Linked DNA regions of Homo sapiens. The protein of the gene in region 3 purifies or fractionates together with the protein of the main gene of each other region. This does not show direct contact. Each region holds a gene or a part of one and is shown on either strand. Other genes may lie near its edges. The genes, in order: NRP1, FUT8 and PLVAP.

Region 1 (3,650 bases), on a different chromosome or scaffold from region 3:
AGTCATAGTTTGGAATTTAAGTTACAGTTCAGTTCTATGTGGTTTTTATGCTACTCAGTGTCTGAGAATACAAATGTCATTTAAAGTTAAGGCTTCGCTGTTCATTTTGAAACAACAATTTACAAGTGTCATATTGTCATAGAAAATAATAATTTCTGTAAAAAAAATCTGCACAAAATCTTATGATGGTACAAAACATGAAGCAATAATATACCAGTAAAATGAAAACATTTTACTACAGAAAGTTTTATAGATTTCCATAAAGAAAAAATATGTTATTTTACACCTTTAAAAATTACAAAACAATCTAAAACAATATAAACTGAACATTTTGTAACACTGCCTTTACAAATTAATAACTTTATAAACATATAATTTTTAAATATATTTATCAGTGCAAGATACTTTAAATTTTAAAGTTGCAGTATCATTTTTCCTTGGCTGAGGACAACTTTAAGTCTGTTGCCTTTAAAAACAACAAACGAGTGTTTCTTAGTGCTTTCCTTCTGGTAGGATTATATCAACTAAATGAATGTCTCTGGGGACAAAAAACTATTCTTCTTTCATGGTGATCAATATTTTCCTGGAAACAAAAGGCATTCTCAATCCAATTTAACTAAGATGAATGGACTGTCTCGTCTATGATGCAAATGTGACTCCCAACAAATGTCTTTGAGTGAGACGTCTAGCAATGTGGGAAGGAAGATCTAAAAAATCTCATGTCCAACATGGCATGATAAAAATCCACCAAAACCAACCAAAGCTTCTTTGGGTTAATTCATAGGCTGCCTGGTAAGATATTTGCTTCCCTGTGCTGTTAGAGGCTTAGATGTTGCCAGCCCTAAGGCAGGCTTATTCTTTGTGAGCCGCTGGAAGTTTCTAGAAGCATTCATTTAAGTCTATTTTTTCAAGGTTGCTGTTATGAATTTTTAAAACATTTGTTTGACTTTATGTGTTTTTCCCCCTCTTATCTTAAAATACTTGACCCCCAGGCATCAGGATTTATAGTTTCATTCTTAAATTAACTGTTCTTCCTTCCACTTCCCTTGTGTGACTCAGTAGCAAAATAAGAAAGTTCTCTTGGGTCATTTTTGCATATTTGGATAGAAAAATCTCATGCTTTTGGATTTGGAAGATTTTATCCAGTTCTTCCTTTGGGTCTCACTTGAAAGCCAATTTGTATTATTTCTTTCCTCAACTTATCACTATTTCTACTAAATGCCAACATTTCTATCAAAGGTCATTTTGAATAGAATAGATAAGGAAAAAAGATACTGTCACTTTAACCAGTTAACAAGAAAACCAAAGTTAGACTTTGGAGGGCAAAGTTAGGAATTTCCCTTATTTATTTATTTTTAAACATAAAGTCTAGTAAAATCGTTTGCCATTCCCAGCAGGTTAAAGCTGCAAGTTTCTTTCCTGGACAATGGCAAATCCTCCAATTCTAAGAGAGAAAAAAGACAGAGAGATAGGAGAGAGAAAGAGAAGAGAGTTTACATTTGAAAATACATTCCATATGAAAGAACAATAAGAGAGAATATTGTAGCTTTATACAAAAGGGTCAAGAAACATGAAATTGAACTACAGAAAAAGCAGAACAATTAAGCCACGTTGCCAAATCTTCAGAGCCCTTGCCTGCCCGGAGGGGCTGGCATCTCACACGAAAATAAACTTTCTTCTTAGTCAGTGGGCCACCAGAGTTTGATTAAAGAGCAGGGCTTTCACCAGCAAGAAGCAGAGTGGGTCGTTAATGTAACACAATGAACCAGTACAAACAAAAAGGCACTTGAGAGGACATAGACTAGCCAGTGCCAAGGATTTGTGTTTTTGTTGTTGCGGTTGTCAGCAGTATACCCAGTGGCCAGCCGTGTTCAGGGATGGCACCGTTTTCTGTATGGAGTTCACAAGCACGAGGTTTAGTACAACACCGGAAAAACAGCAAGAAAACTGGACAGTATTGCTTCGTAAACAGAGCTGACACACTACACCAGTACTGAGGCTACAGTACTTTAAAAAGAAAACAGCCTAATCCTTCTTTGCCTATGCACGACGCGGGCAATTATACACAAGTACAACTTCAGGAGTCCACTGAAATGCGGTGATTCTAGTATATTCTGGGCACTGGGTTTCAGGTAGCATGTCCATCCAAAGGGCCACACGGAATACGCTTGGTGCCAGCATCTTGGATTTCGCTCAGTTTCCAAAAAGAATCCACAAAGGGGAGAGGAGAGAGAGAGAGAGGGGCAGGAGGGGTCGAAATGAATGATTATGTCAATCATACTTGGTCTCAACACCAGCATCTGATTATTCAAATGAAACCAACAGGAAAAAAGCTGACTGCACATGAGTCCGATGGTGAACACAGCTCCTTGTCCATGTCTGTCGGCCATACTCATTGAAGCTCCTGAGAAAAGCCTGGCTCAGTGGTCATCAACACACTTCCCAGCCTGTATAGTGAAAGATCAACAGCTCCCCAGCTCACTCCCGTCCTTCCACTTCCGTCCTTTGACTGTCTTTTCATCTCTGTCTGCCTTCATGCCTCCGAATAAGTACTCTGTGTATTCAGTTTGTCTTTTTTCAACTTCACACCATCCACAAGTTCAAAGTTATAGTTCTCCAGGGCAGACAAGTTTCTTTCTGACATCCCATTATGCCAACAGGCACAGTACAGCACGACCCCACAGACAGCCCCCAGGAGGACCCCCAGGGCACTCATGGCTATGATGGTGATGAGGATGGGGTCTAAGGTCTTCAACACATTGCCTGGCTTCCTGGAGATGTTCTTGTCACCTTCTCCTTCACCTTCGTATCCTGGCGTGCTCCCTATGGAAAAAAACAATATTGTCTCCGTGAGCACCGCCAACAGACCAGATGAAAGCAGACAGAAAAATAGAAAGGAACGAAACAGGAGCAAATCACACACCCCAGTTTTGCCTGTCATATCTGACTCATTGTTGGGAACAGAAGTGTGGGAGGTGGTAGAGGGGAGTGGGCGCTGGGGCTTCTGACAGACTGCTTAGCACGTGGAAACAACCCATTCTGGATCAACTGGGAGGTTCCTTGCTCATCTAACTCAGATTTCATGCAGCCCCATCTGTCCTAGATTGTAATCTGTGTTTACAGTCCTTGGCTAGATAGGTGATCATTAAGTTTTGCAAAATGCTTAGTCACACATTAGTCTAGCAAGGGGATTTTACCATTCCCAGTGCATGTACCTAACCCCAAAACAGGCACAAGAAAAACCTTCATGGCTGCCCTTCTACGTGGTGCTGTTTCCAGGATCTGGCATGGTTTATGCATGTGTTTGTTCTCCCATATGGAAAATCTTCAAGTGAAACGAATTTTGCCCAAAGTCTACAGTAGTTTCAGTAAAGAAGGAGTGATTTTTTAGAACAAGAGAATGCTTGCTGCTGACATGTAAACAGAGTGTGGCTCAAATCGAGAAACCATGTCTGTCATGCCAAATAGAAGACATTTACTAATAATCAGCATCTTTGCAGCCCTGGTAGTTTAACTGGAGACAGTTGCACTGCTCTGCAGCTCAGTCACTGGGGACTTGTTTTCTTTGGAGTGGAACAGGAGAAATTGTTAACATGGGAGCTTTGAGCCTAATTACCTGGTACTAGAAACGGGATGAAAATGTTAACGCA
Region 2 (3,650 bases), on a different chromosome or scaffold from region 3:
TTCTTTCTACACAGACACAGTAACAATCTGATTTCTCTTTCTTTTCCCCACATTTCCCCCTTTTCTTTTTGACAAAACCACCATCATCATCATGGCCTGTTCTCGATGGTCGCTGTCTCTTTGGAGCTGTTGGGTACACCTCCCAGATGGGGCAGCCAGGCAGAGGCACTCCTCACTTCCCAGACGGGGCGGCCGGGCAGAGGCGCTCCTCACTTCCCAGACGGGGCGGCCGGGCAGAGGCGCTCCTCACCTCCCAGACGGGGCGGCCGGGCAGAGGCGCTCCCCACTTCCCAGATGGGGCGGCCGGGCAGAGGCACTCCCCACTTCCCAGACGGGGCGGCCGGGCAGAGGTGCTCCACACTTCCCAGACGGGGTGGCCGGGCAGAGGCGCTCCACACTTCCCAGACGGGGTGGCCGGGCAGAGGTGCTCCCCACTTCCCAGATGGGGCGGCCGGGCAGAGGCGTTCCCCACTTCCCAGACGACGGGCAGCCGGGCAGAGGCGCTCCTCATTTCCCAGATGGGGCGGCCGGGCAGAGGCGCTTCTCACCTCCCAGACGGGGCGGCCGGGCAGAGGCGCTCCTCACCTCCCAGACGGGGCGGCCGGGCAGAGGCGCTCCTCACCTCCCAGACGGGGCGGCCGGGCAGAGGCGCTCCTCACTTCCCAGACGATGGGCGGCCGGGCAGAGGCACTCCTCACCTCCCAGACAGGGCAGCCGGGCAGAGACGCTCCTCACTTCCCAGACGGGGCGGCCAGGCAGAGACTCTCCTCACCTCCCAGATGGGGCAGCTGGGCAGAGGTGGCTCCTCACATCCCAGACAGGGCAGCTGGGCAGAGGCGCTCCTCACTTCCTAGACGGGGCGGCCGGGCAGAGGCGCTCCTCACCTCCCAGACGAAGGGCGGCCGGGCAGAGGCGCTCCTCACATCCCAGACGATGGGCGGCCGGGCAGAGACGCTCCTCACCTCCCAGACGGGGCGGCCGGGCAGAGGCGCTCCCCACTTCCCAGACGGGGCAGCCGGGCAGAGGCGCTCCCCATTTCCCAGACGGGGCGGCTGGGCAGAGATGCTCCTCACTTCCCAGACGGGGCAGCTGCCAGGCAGAGGCGCTCCTCACCTCTCAGACGGGGCGGCCTGGCAGAGGCACTCCTCAGTTCCCAGACGGGGCGGCCAGGCAGAGGCGCTCCTCACCTCCTTCTTTGTCCCTTTTTATAGTTTTTTTTTCTTGAAATCTATTTTGTCTATTACAGGTATAGCTACTCCTGCTCTTTTTTGGTTTTCATTGGCATGAAATATCTTTTTCCATCCCTTTATTTTTAGTCTGTGTGTCTTTATAGGTGAAGTATGTTTCTTGTAGGTAACAGATCATTGAATTTTGTGTTTCTTAGCTATTCAGCCACTCTATGTCTTTTGATTGGAGAATTCAGTTTGTTTACATTTAGTGTTATTAATAATAAGTAAGATCTTACTCCTGCCATTTTGTTATTTGTTTTCTGGTTATTTTGTGGTCTTCTCTTCCTTCTTTCCTTCCTTTCTATTTTCCTTTTAGTGAAGGTGATTTTCTCTGGTGGTTTGTTTTAATTTCTTGCTTTTTATTTTTTGTGTATTCATTGTATGTTTTTTGATTTGAGATTATCATGAGGCTTGCAAATAACTTATAGCTCGTTATTTTAAACTGATGACAATTTGGCACCGATTGCATAAACAAACATGCAATCAAAAAGAAGTCTAATAAATACTCTGTACTTTGTCCCCCCAACTTTTTAACTTTCTGTTATTTCTATTTATATCTTATGGTACCAAGTATGTCTTGAAAAGTTGTAGTTATTTTTGATCGGTTCATCTTTTAGTCTTTTACTTAAGATATCAATAGGTTACATACCACAATTACAGTGTTATAAAATTATGTGGTTTTTTGTATGCTTAGTATGACCAGTGAGGTACCTTCAGATCATTTTTTAATTGCCCATTAACACCTTTTTTCCTTCAAATTGAAGGATTCCCCTTAGCATTTCTTGTAGAACAGGTCTGATGTTGATGAAATCTCTCAGCTTTTGTTTGTCTGGGAAAGTCTTTATTTCTTCTTTAAGCTTGAAGGATGTTTTCACTGGATATACTATTCTAGGGTAAAAGTTTTTTTTCCCTCAGTAGTTTATGTCATACCACTCTCTTTTGGCCTGTAATGTTTCCACTGAAAAGTCTGCTGTCAGACATATTGGAGCTCCATGGTATGTTATTTATTTTTTCTTTTGCTGCTTTTAGGATCCTTTCTTTATCCTTGACCTTTGGAAGTTTGGTTATTAAATGCCTTGAATGGTAGTCTTCTTTGGGTTAAATCTGGTTGATGTATAACTTTCTTGTACTTGAATATTGATATCTTTGTCTAGAATTCGGATGTTCTCTGTTTCATCCCTTTGAATAAACGTTCTGTTCCTATCTCTCTCTGCCTCCTTCTTAAGGCCAATAACTGTTAGATTTGCCCTTTTGAAACTATTATTTAGATCTTATAGGCATGCTTCATTGTTTTTCATTCTTTTTTCTTTTGTCTCTGTTGACAGTGTATTTTCAAATAGCCTGTCTTTAAGCTTACCAATTCTTTCTTCTGCTTGATGACTTCTATTAAGAGACTCAGTATGTCAGCTGCATTTTTCAACCCCAGAATTTCTGCTTGATTCCTTTTAATTGTTTCAACCTCTTTGTTAACTTTATCTGATAGGATTCTGAATTCCTTCTTTGTGTTATCTTGAACTTCTTTGCATTTCCTCAAAATAGCTCTTTTGAATTCCCTCTCTGAAAGGTCACATATCTATGTTTCTTCAGGATTTGGTCCCTGGTGCCTTATTTAGTTTGTTTTTCAAGGCCATGTTTTCCTGGATGGTCTTGATGCTTGTGGGTGTTCATTGGTGTCTGGGCATTGAAGGTATTTATCGTAGTCTTCACAATCTGAACTCTTTTGTACCTGTCTTAGAAAGGCTTTCCAGATATTTGAAGGGAGTTGGCTGTTGTGATCCAGTTTTGGTCATTGCAGCCATATCTACATTAGGGGGCACCCCAAGCCCGATAATGCTGTGGTTCTTACAGACTTGCAGAGGTACTACCTTTGTGGTCTTAGATAAGGTCTAGAAGAATTCTCTGGATTACCAAGCAGAGACTCTTGTTCTCTTCCCTTACTTTGTCCCAAACAAACGAGTCTCTGATTCTGTGCTCCAAGCCTCTTGTAGTTGGGGGAGTGGTGACACAAGCACTTTTGTGGCTACCACCACTGGAACTACACTAGACCAGACCTGAAACCAGCATAGCACTGGATCTCACCCAAGGCCCAGTGTAACCCCTACCTGGCTACCTCCTGTGTTGGCTCAAAGTTCTAGGGCTCTATAATGAGCAGGTGGCAAAGCCAGTCAGGCTTTTATCCATCCCTTCAGGACAGCAAGCAAGTTCCCCTGGGCCCCAGGCAGGTCCAGAGATGCCATCTGGGAGCCAGCATCTGGAGTTGGAAACCTTAGAACCCTATCTGGTCCTCTATTCTCCTGCAGCTGAGCTGGCATCCAAACCATAAGGCAAAGTGCTTCCCACTTTTCACTCCTCTTTTCATAGGCAAAAGAGTCTCTCCCTATGGCCACCACCACTACAAGCCCACAGGGATTATTGCCAGGC
Region 3 (3,650 bases):
AGACCAGCCTGACCAACATGGTGAAACCCCGTCTCTACTAAAAAAACAAAATTAGCCGGGCGTGATGGCGCATGCCTGTAATCCCAGCTGCTTGGGAGGCTGAGGCAGGAGAATCACTTGAACCCAGGAGGTGGAGGTTGCGGTGAGCTGAGATCGGGCCATTGCACTCCAGCCTGGGCAACGAGAGAGAAACTCCGTCTCAAAAACAAAAAAACAAAAGAAGAAGAAGTAAGAGTGGAGGCCGGAGGGGGTGGCTTATACCTCTAATCCCAGCACTTTGGGAGGCCAAGGAGGGCGGATCACTTGAGGCCAGGAGTTTGAGACCAGCATGGCCAACATGGTGAAACCCCAAAATTTTTACAAATTTTGTAGAAAAAGATACAAAAATTAGCCAGGTGTGGTGGTACACTCCTGTAATCCCAGCTACTCAGGAGGCTGAGGCAGGACAATTGCTTAACCCAGGAGACGGAGGTTGCAGTGAGCTGTGATTGCGCCACTGCACTCCTGCCTAGGAGACAGAGTGAGAGTCCATCTCAAAAAAAAGAAAAAGGAGTGGAAAAGGAAAAATCAACTCTCCCGATGCATGAGGTGGGTGATTTAATGCTGAGTCTTGTCCCAGCACCTCATTAGGTGCATCTAAAATTCTAGTGACTCAGCTACTTGGGAGGCCGAGGCAGGAAGATCACTTGAGGCCAGGAGTTCAAATCCAGCCTGGGCAACATAGCAAGACCCCTGTCTCTACAAAAAAATAACAATTTAGCTAGGCATGGTGGAGTGTACCTGTAGGCTCAACCACTGGGGAGGCTGAGGCAGGAAGATTGTTTGAGCCCAGGAGTTCGAGGCTGCAGTGAGCTATGATCGTGCCACTGCACTCCAGCCTGGGTGACAGAGCAAGACCCTGTCTCGAAAAAAATAATGATTAAAAAAATAAAATTCCAGTGACTCTCCCCAAGTTGCCCAGTTAACCCAGAGCAGACAGCCCCAGCCCACTTGCCCCCGGCCTCTCTCAGGGGAAGGCGAGTCAAGGGCAGAAGCCAGCAGGCCAGAAGCCCTTCCTGCGACCGTGAGGAGAGAAGCAGGCAAGGTCCAGGCTTAAGTACACATTGTTTTCTCGGCAGGTGGACGTCATTTCGGGGTAAACAATGTCAAGAGCTTCCCTGGTTCTCAGCCGAGGCCCTGACAGTCCTGGGCTGGGAGCCCGGGCCTGGCCCTGATTCTCCACTGTGTGACCCCAGGCTGCTCACTTCCCTGGGGCCTCAGTTTCCTCCTCTGAGAAGTGGGGATAATAATAGAACCTCCTTCCTTGCCATGAGGGCTTTCGGCCAAGATGGAGAGAGGAAAATTGTGTTTGCTTGGAGCGGGGAATCTCCTCCTCACCTTTTTGTTTCCCTCCCTGTGGGCTGCTCAGGGCTGAGAACTTTCTCCCAGACAGAGCCATCTAGAGCAAAGGGGTTGAGAGACAGCTTGGCGAGGGAGTGAGCTCCCTGTTGGAGAGGGTATGCAAGAAGGAAAAAAAAAAAAAAGAAGAAGAGGTGGAAATGGAGCTGGACATGATGCATCCTGGGGAGTTGGCGGCAAAGCTTTCGGAAATCTACTTGGCCAGAAATCCCATATTAGCCCTCTGAGGCTGCAACAGACCCAGAATGACAATAGCTCCGTGGCAAAATGGTCATAGGCACAGTGGTTGGGGTCAAAGGGATCTGACTTAAAGTTCTGGTGCCTTCCTGAGCCTCGGGTCCTAAACTGCAAACAGCAATGCCAGGCCCTGACTCCTCCGTCAGTGGTGTAGCAGGACCCCAGAGAGAGCACAGGCTATTCTTGGGGCGGTGGCCTGAGTCACCATCCCTGTGACGCACAGGCCACCCTCTGAGAAGTGACTGACTCTGGGAGGAGGCAGGGGGCACAGGCAGCAAGCCATGACCTGAGCGTGTGCCAGGAGCCCTTGCTGCTTCCTACAGAGGCCCCTAGTCCCTTGCTCCGGTCATTTTTGGATGGCACCTTGCAATTAGCAAAGCATTTCCAGGCCCTTGACTTCAGAGACTATCTTTTTTTTTTTTCCAAGACAGGATCTCACTCTGTCTCCCAGGCTGGAGTGCAGGGATGCGATCTTGGCTCTCTGCAGCCTCCACCTCCTGGACTCGGGCGATCTTCCCACCTCAGGCTCCTGAGTAGCTCGGACTACAGGTGCGCACCACCACACCTGGGTAATTTTTGTATTTTTTGTACAGAGGGGGTTTTGCTATGTTGCCCAGACTGGTCTTGAACTCCTGGGCTCAAGCAATCCTCTCACCTCGGCCTCCCAAAGTGCTGGGATTACAGGTGTGAGCCACAGTGCCTAGCTGAGACTCTTTTTTATTTATTATTTTTATTTTTATTTTTTGTTGCCCAGGCTGGAGTGTAGTGGCTCAATCTTGGCTCACTGCAACCTCCACCTCCCGGGTTCAAGTGATTCTCCTGCCTCAGCCTCCGGAGTAGCTGGGATTACAGGTGCCCACCACCACACCCGGCTAATTTTTGTATTTTTTTTTTTTTTTTAGTAGAGACAGGGTTTCACCATGTTGGCCAAGCTAGTTTTGAACTCCTGAGCTCAAGTGATCCGCCCGCTTCAGCCTCCCAAAGTGCTGGGATTACAGGCGTGAGCCACTGCAACCAGCCTCTCTTTTTTTGAGACAGAGTCTTGCTCTGTTCCCAGGCTGGAGTGCAATGGTGTCATCTCGGCTCACTGCAACCTCTGCCTCCCGGGTTCAAGTGATTCTCCTGCCTCAGTCTCCCAAGCAGCTGGGACTACAGGCGCATACCACCACGCCCAGCTACTTTTTGTATTTTTAGTAGAGATGGGGTTTCACCATGTTGGCCAGATGGTCTTGATCTCTTGACCTCATGATCCGCCCACCTCGGCCTGGGATTACAGGCGTAAGCCACCGTACCCGGCCTCTTTTTTTTTTTTTTTTTCTGACACAGTCTCACTCTGTCGTCCAGGCTGGAGTGCAGTGGCATGATCTCGGCTCACTGCAACCTCCGCCTCCCAGGTTCAAGCAATTCTCCTGCCTCAGCCTCCTGAGTAGCTGGGATTCCAAGCATGAGCCACTGTGCCCAGCTGAGACTCATTTTCTAGAAAGTAAAGGTCAGGATTCATTCCTGGATGCCACTCCCCCTTCTCTCCCTCTGCTCATTACCTTCCCTCACCCCCGTCCAGCCTCCAGGCCTTTGGCCTGGCTGTTCCTGCTGCCTAGAACACTGTTCCCCCTGCTTTCCCTGAGGCCAGCTCCTCATGCTCCAGCTCTTCCTCACCAAGGCTCTCTCTTGCCTGTTTGGGGTCCGATGGCCTGGGTTCATGTCCCAGCTCTGCTGTGCTCCCTGGGGTACAGGGCATGCCCTCTCTGTGCCTCACTCTCCTCATCTGGAAAGTGGGTAGAATAGTGGTTTGCCCTACTATTATTGTTAAGTTGTGAAGATTACATGAATTAATCTTGCAAAGTACTTAGAACTGCGTGGGGCTCCCAGTAGGTGCCTAATAATTGTAGGCTCTTTGGTAGTCCCATCATGACACTGTCTAACCCACTACTCAGGGAGTTTCATGAGGACAGGACTGGGTGTGTCTTGGATACTGCTGTGTCCCTCACGCCCAACCATACATGACCTAGTATACA

What was found.
Region 1: the proteins of PLVAP (region 3) and NRP1 purify together in Homo sapiens (affinity purification with western blotting; one study listed by BioGRID). This does not show direct contact.
Region 2: the proteins of PLVAP (region 3) and FUT8 purify together in Homo sapiens (affinity purification with mass spectrometry; 3 studies listed by BioGRID and IntAct, with this or other methods). This does not show direct contact.

Annotation. Positions count from the first base shown.
Region 1 is NC_000010.11:33,177,543-33,181,192, forward strand, and holds part of NRP1 (neuropilin-1 isoform a precursor), read right to left. Parts: intron 2,824-3,650; coding exon 2,534-2,823; 3' UTR 1-2,533. UniProt on the Homo sapiens protein: Cell-surface receptor involved in the development of the cardiovascular system, in angiogenesis, in the formation of certain neuronal circuits and in organogenesis outside the nervous system. Mediates the chemorepulsant activity of semaphorins.
Region 2 is NC_000014.9:65,716,627-65,720,276, forward strand, and holds part of FUT8 (alpha-(1,6)-fucosyltransferase), read left to right. Parts: intron 1-3,650. UniProt on the Homo sapiens protein: Catalyzes the addition of fucose in alpha 1-6 linkage to the first GlcNAc residue, next to the peptide chains in N-glycans.
Region 3 is NC_000019.10:17,356,759-17,360,408, forward strand, and holds part of PLVAP (plasmalemma vesicle-associated protein), read right to left. Parts: intron 1-3,650. UniProt on the Homo sapiens protein: Endothelial cell-specific membrane protein involved in the formation of the diaphragms that bridge endothelial fenestrae. It is also required for the formation of stomata of caveolae and transendothelial channels.